2 separate regions of the Homo sapiens genome follow, and region 2 is reported to be linked to region 1. The links are microRNA targets in miRTarBase. Many come from high-throughput screens and were not tested one by one. Region 1 holds a microRNA gene; the other region holds the end of a gene's coding sequence.

Region 1 (3,000 bases):
ACTTAAGGGAGTAAACCTGGGCTCCGATGAACCCTAGGGTCCTTCCTTGCCACTCTCCACCACTGGCCAGGAGCTCCTCCCGCCCTCTAGTGGTCACCGGGAGCCTTGCGGGGCTGGGCCGCGCAAGCTGAGGGGCCGCTCGGACCGGGCGGAGAGGAGTAAGGGCAGCGCTGCCTAAGTGAGGCAGCGAGAGCCCGCGAGAGGGAAGCAGGGCCCGGGAGAGAAGGGTCACTGCCGTGGCCAGGGAGGGAGGAACGCACAGCATGGTGGACGGCTGGGAGCTTTAGGAGGGGGCACTCCGGGACGCGTGGTGGTGGCGTCTGGAGGAAATGGAGCTAAGCGGGTGGGGTCCTGAGGTATGTGGAAGGGGCACCGAGGTATGTGGGAGAGGACGTTGGAACGTGGGCGGGGGAGTTGGACACGTTCTGTGTGGGCCGTTATGTACTTAAGAGGCAGATCGGGCGTGGCACGGTGGCTCACGCCCGTAATCCCAACACTTTGGAAGGCCGAGGCGAGTGGATCACAAGGTCAGGGGTTCAAGACCAGCCTGGCCAAGATGGTGAAACCTCGTCTCTACTAAAAACTACAAAAATTAGCCGAGCGTGGTGGCGGGCGCTGTAACCCCAGCTACTCAGGAGGCTGAGGCAGGAGAATCGCTTGAACCCGGGAGGCGGAGGTTGCAGTGAGCCGAGATCGCGCCATTGCACTCCAGCCTGGGCGACAGAGCAAGACTCCGTCTCAAAACAAAAAAGGGGGGGGCAGAGAGTAGGTGGGGTGACAGAATGGGATTTACGGACACAGAACTATCCTTTGGGGAGCAGAGTGGTATTGGGGACAGGTAGGCACGTAGCGGGGGGCAAAAGCACACGTGAGGTGCGTAATGCGCGACAGCCAAGAGGTGTGTGCGGCAGCAGTGCACGAGGGGAGGAAGCTATCCCAGGCCGCGGCAGCACGTGGAACTTGGGTCCCGCAGTCGCAGGCTGCGCTCTAGGCCGACGGAAGCAGTTCCGCCTGTATTCAGAAAACAGTTCTCAGCCCCAAAGACACAGGTTGGAAAGAACACTTTAAAAACACTTCGGCGAGGCACGGGATTGGAGCGCATCAGATCAGCAGGCGAGAGACCACAGCTCTCGCCCGCGCGCCGCGCGGCGCCCGAGGCGCAGCTTTGTGTGCGGCGAGACCCTGGGGCAGGCGCTGGGCGGGGTGGGGACATCTGACGTCAGCGCGCCCGGGAGCGCGGGCCGGGGAGGCGGGGAGCCCCCCAACTCGCAGGCCGGAGAAAACACGAGTAGCTAGGTGGGCGGCCCCAAACCTCAACTCCCGGCATTGCCAAGCAACAGCCATTCAGTTCGGTTGCTGGGACACGCGTCACCATGGCGACGGCTCCGCGCCGCGCAGTCTGAGTACTTAAAGAGCAAGCGCGCGCAACGCCCGGGCGTCGGAAAGCGGCCTTCTGGGACTCCGCAAACTCCCGTTCTCCCTCCCCCCTCCCCCTTGCCATTCCCTTTGCCTTCCGGGCGCCAAGTCTCTCTGGCCTCCAAGGTGAACCCAACTCCCCAGCGCGCCCCGGGTTCCCGGGTCGGGCCGGCTTCAGGCGGTGGGGAGCGGGATCCCGGGCCCCGGGCGGGCGGGAGGGACGGGACGCGGTGCAGTGTTGTTTTTTCCCCCGCCAATATTGCACTCGTCCCGGCCTCCGGCCCCCCCGGCCCCCCGGCCTCCCCGCTACCCCTAGCGGGGCAGCCCCCGCCCTCCTGGCTCTCCATCCCGGCGGATCTTTGATAGACTGGAGTGTCGCCGCTGCCACCGTGAGTAAGTGGGTCTGGGAGGACTTCGGGCATCCTCCCTCAGGCACCCTATCCTTCACTTAACTCCATCCAGCACCTCCCCCACCCGCATCCCCAAATCAGCCAAACTTCCCCTAGATCCCTAACTTCCACCCTCCCAGGCTTTCTCTTCTACTCGCCGATTCCTTCCACTTCCCCACCCTATCCCGGAAAATCCCTAAAATAAGCAGTTGCACTGGCTTAGAAAACAACCAAAACTTTATGGCAATGTGCTGTCATCTTTCCTGGGGTTAGTGCCTGAGTAATACCCCTTGAAAACTTCTCATCCCCTGAAGGGTGGGGTGACCACCCCTCTGGGACTGAACTCCTTTTGGGAGCCAGAGAAGGGTCTGTGGTTGGCTGAGGGGCTGTAGCTTAGACCTCAGGGTCTCCAGGATGGACCCCAAGGCCAAAGGGTCTAAAATTCTGAATTCTGAATCTGGTGGCCTCCTCCTCACACCCTTCCCTGGAGCAGCTGCCTCCGGAATGGCTCAAAGTCCTCAGGCACTGTGTCTGAAGAAGGGGAAATAAGTAAGGTCAGAGGATGTGGCTCTCCCACAAGGCATGAAGGATTAGGTTGATCTCAATCAGCCACCTCACCATTGCATCGATACTGGAGATTGGACCAAATTATGTTTTCTTGGGAGAAGCAGAATACACCAAGACGCCCCCCTCGCATGGATGTGTCAATGATCACCCCAGAATCCGCCACAAGCTGGGGTCCCTCATAGAGCTTCACCCTGTCCAGGATTCCAGGATAGGAGTATCCATTGGTGCTAGGGTGCCAGTGGGCACTGTGCCACCATGCCTGGGGCCTTGCTTTTCCCCAGCCCCCCTTGAGCTCACCAGGCCTGAGAGAGAAGGGAGGGAGGGAAAGGGAGGCAGGAAGGAGAGGGAAGGGGGGTGCTTTTCTCAGGCCTGGGGCCCCTAGCTCTTTGTCCAGCTCCTTTTGCATCTCAAAGCACCAGCCGCATTCCAAGCGAGGATTGGGTTGCCATGACAATAAGCACAATGGGCTGGGGGGTGAAGTCACCCGCTTCCCAGGCTCTAGTCCACCCCCTTTTATCCCCTGTCCTGGCACCCCACAGCCCCAGGCACCTTAAAGGGGAACCAACCCAGGTTCCTGGACTCTGGGCTCTTGGCCATGGAAAGTCCAGCCTCTAAGCAGACCCATTTC
Region 2 (3,000 bases), not on the chromosome of region 1:
AATTTGTTCATGCCCAGTTCTATCACATTTCAGCATGAACTTAAGAAATCCATACTTATAACTTATGCTAAATCTATATAAATAAAATTCTAACACCCATCTATGATGATGATGTGGTTTCATTGTTCTTTTAAGTGTGTTTTCTAAAATTAATGTTACTATGGAAATTCAATTTTATAGATAAAATTAATTCTATTAGCATATTTTATTCCTAAGACGAAGACTCCATCTTTCTGTCTTCTACTTGGAAAAATAAATTTTGAGAGTTCTTTGCCCACCCCCTCTTTTTTTTTTTTTTGGAGACCAAGTCTTGTGCTGTCACCCAGGCTGGAGTGCAATGGCACGATTTTGGCTCACTGCAACCTCCACCTCCCGGGTTCAAGTGATTCTTGTGCCTCAGCCTCTTGAGTAGCTGGGACTACAGGCGTGTGCCACCAGGTCTAGCTAATTTTTTGTATTTTAGTACAGATGGGGTTTCACTATGTTGCCCAGGCTGGTCACAAACTCCTGAGTGCAGGCAATCTGCCCACCTTAGCCTCCCAAAGTGTCAGGATTACAGGCGTGAGCCACCATGCCCGGCACAGCTGACTTTTAATGTAAGCTCTCCTTTGTTGAATAAACTGAGTAATGTGAGGCTGGGCGCGGTGGCTCAAGCCTATAATCCCTGCACTTTGTAAGGCTGAGGCAGGTGGATCACCTGAGGTCAGGAGTTCCAGACCAGCCTGGCCAACATAATGAAACCTGTCTCTACTAAAAATACAAAAAATTAGCTGGGCATGGTGGTGCGCGCCTATAATCCCAGCTACTCAGGAGGCTGAGGAAGGAGAATTGCTTGAACCTGGGAGGCAGAGGTTGCAGTGAGCTGAGATCGCACCACCGCACTCCAGCTTGGGCAAGAGCAAAACTCCGCCTCAAAAAACAAAAAACAAAAACTGAGTAATGTGACAACTTTCCATAAAAAAATTGACCCTCCTGTCTTGTAAAAATATTCCAAAACAGATACACTATTAGTAACCAAATGCAACCATTGCTTAAAACCAGAGGAAAAAAAGTTCCATTTTCTATTTGGTTTATGAAGTCTACAACCACAATGATGTGCCTAGAGTGGTGCCTGGTCCCTTCTATGTGACAGAGTTGGCTGTGAACTGTTATCAGTAGGAAGAGTGCTTGGAATTCCTTCACTCCTGCCCTAAATCCCTTGGTCCCTACTCCATAAAGAAGGTGGTTGGAGTGGAGCACAGCCAAGGGACTGAGCAAAGACAAATGATCGGATGAAGGAAAAGAACTATGATTCTTGCCTCATAAGCAAATTAGCTTATCAGGCATACATTATTAATTTTGAAAAAAATGTATATAATTCTTAAAACTAGGGTAGATGACTTGGACACTTATGCTAACTTAAGAAAACTTCAGGGTTGGATACGATAGGGCAAAAAAAAATTCAGTTCAAGACTGGCAATGTAATAAAATGAGCACTGCCCAAAAGGAATTTGGATAGTTGTTAAAGCAACATAACTATACTTTCATGAAATATATTGGAAAAAAACAGCAGCAGTCTCAATAAAATGTAACTGCATACTATGAAACACTTAGTTACTGCTTAAGAATATGGAAGGATGTTCACTTGTAAAAGGAAATGGATGACTTAAGTGAATAACTTTCAAGTATCTGTTTTATTCAACTATCCTAGAATATGCTTTATAATTGGTTGAAACAGTATATTTTTCTTCAAACTTAGTGTGATAAATTTGTACAAAACTAAAGAGAAAACATGTCACAGACTTTAAACTGTACTCTAAATGTCTTAGGTAAGTAGACCTATATGTGGAAATGTACTTAAAAGGAAATTTATATAGATATTATAAAATTAACTCTATATTACCAAAAATCTCTGGACTATTTATAGTTAATACAAAATGAAATACTTCTGTCTGAGACAAAATTCTCCTATGGCAGATAGAATCGTCTGCAACACAGACATTATAGGAAAGGAGAATTTTGTGCTCTGCCAGCTTAGAACAGAAGTCACCTGCTGCATCAGTGCTATACATTTAAACACCTTTATTTGCATATATAAGAAAATTTTTATTTCAAAATAAGTTAATTTGATAGAATCAGGATCATTTTTCCCAGACTTGAAATTACAATGACAACCACATCACCATTCATCACATTAGAATTAATTTGTAATCTAAGCAGGATTTGTGATGACAATATTAAAATTGGTGCTATTTTTACAGAGAAAGGTGTTGGAAGGACCTTTAGATAATCTTGTTATACTGGTAACTTTCATCTTTCTAAACCATCAATTCTTCCTTACCAATAACAATCTTGCTACTAAAACCATTTGAAAAAATATTTCCCCCAAATATTTTTTCCTAAAAAACATACTGAATTTTGTGTTTATGTAATTACATAAATGCCATTGTTAAAACCAAGAACCGATCTGGTTTTGCCAAAAAGGCCTTCATATACCTAAATCTTACTTTCTTGAAGTTACACTTTTTAGTTTTGTTAATTTTCATAAAAAAATGAAGCAAAAAGTGGTAAAGCATTAGCAAGAACAACTACATGGTTCCTAAAATCCAAAATACTAAGAAAAAGAAAAAGCAGGTTTTATGGTATGATAGAATTTATTAATGGAGACAGGTGGTTTTAAAAATGGGTGAAACTTTAGATGTATGAAGCAGAGATTCATACATCTAATGTGTTGAGACGGATGAAAACACATGTAAGATTGATAAATTGTCAGATACCTGTTACCCTGATGGTTGCTCCTGCTTTGAGAAAGGAAACAGACATCAAAGGAAAGAGTTAGGAGGACAATCCGAGATCAACCAGCAACCCTAACAATTCAGTCAACAAAATGCTTTCTAAGTTACAGACAGAACCCAAGAGCAGCAATATTTGCAGGTTGTAACATAAATTCAAAAGACAATTCCAATTCCTTTTATAATTTTGTTGAATTAGGGTCCAGACTTTAGTTTTGTCTGAGGTTGA

The links. Region 1 holds the annotated microRNA hsa-miR-92b-3p (UAUUGCACUCGUCCCGGCCUCC, at 1,674-1,695, shown strand). A microRNA usually pairs through its seed, bases 2 to 8, with sites in the 3' UTR of a target mRNA and lowers its output. Matches are read on the target gene's strand: a 7mer-m8 pairs with bases 2 to 8, a 7mer-A1 pairs with bases 2 to 7 and ends in A, and an 8mer does both.
Region 2: the mRNA of SYNJ1 is a reported target of hsa-miR-92b-3p. The part of its 3' UTR that is shown has no 7-base or 8-base seed match.

What each region holds. Positions count from the first base shown.
Region 1 is chr1:155,193,564-155,196,563 of GRCh38, forward strand. MIR92B (microRNA 92b) reads left to right here and starts at 1,614; the gene lies at 1,614-1,709. It overlaps THBS3 (thrombospondin 3), which reads right to left. Exons shown (of 23, transcript NM_007112.5): 22 at 2,424-2,563; 23 at 2,025-2,336. The coding sequence ends at 2,278. THBS3-AS1 (THBS3 antisense RNA 1) reads left to right here and starts at 1,434. Exons shown (of 6, transcript NR_183238.1): 1 at 1,434-1,809. RefSeq lists a silencer at 1,117-1,446 and an enhancer at 2,603-3,000.
Region 2 is chr21:32,632,105-32,635,104 of GRCh38, forward strand. SYNJ1 (synaptojanin 1) reads right to left here. Exons shown (of 33, transcript NM_203446.3): 32 at 2,757-2,780. The coding sequence ends at 2,760. Among named protein-coding and RNA genes, the nearest start is that of CFAP298-TCP10L, 21 kb to the left of the region's middle.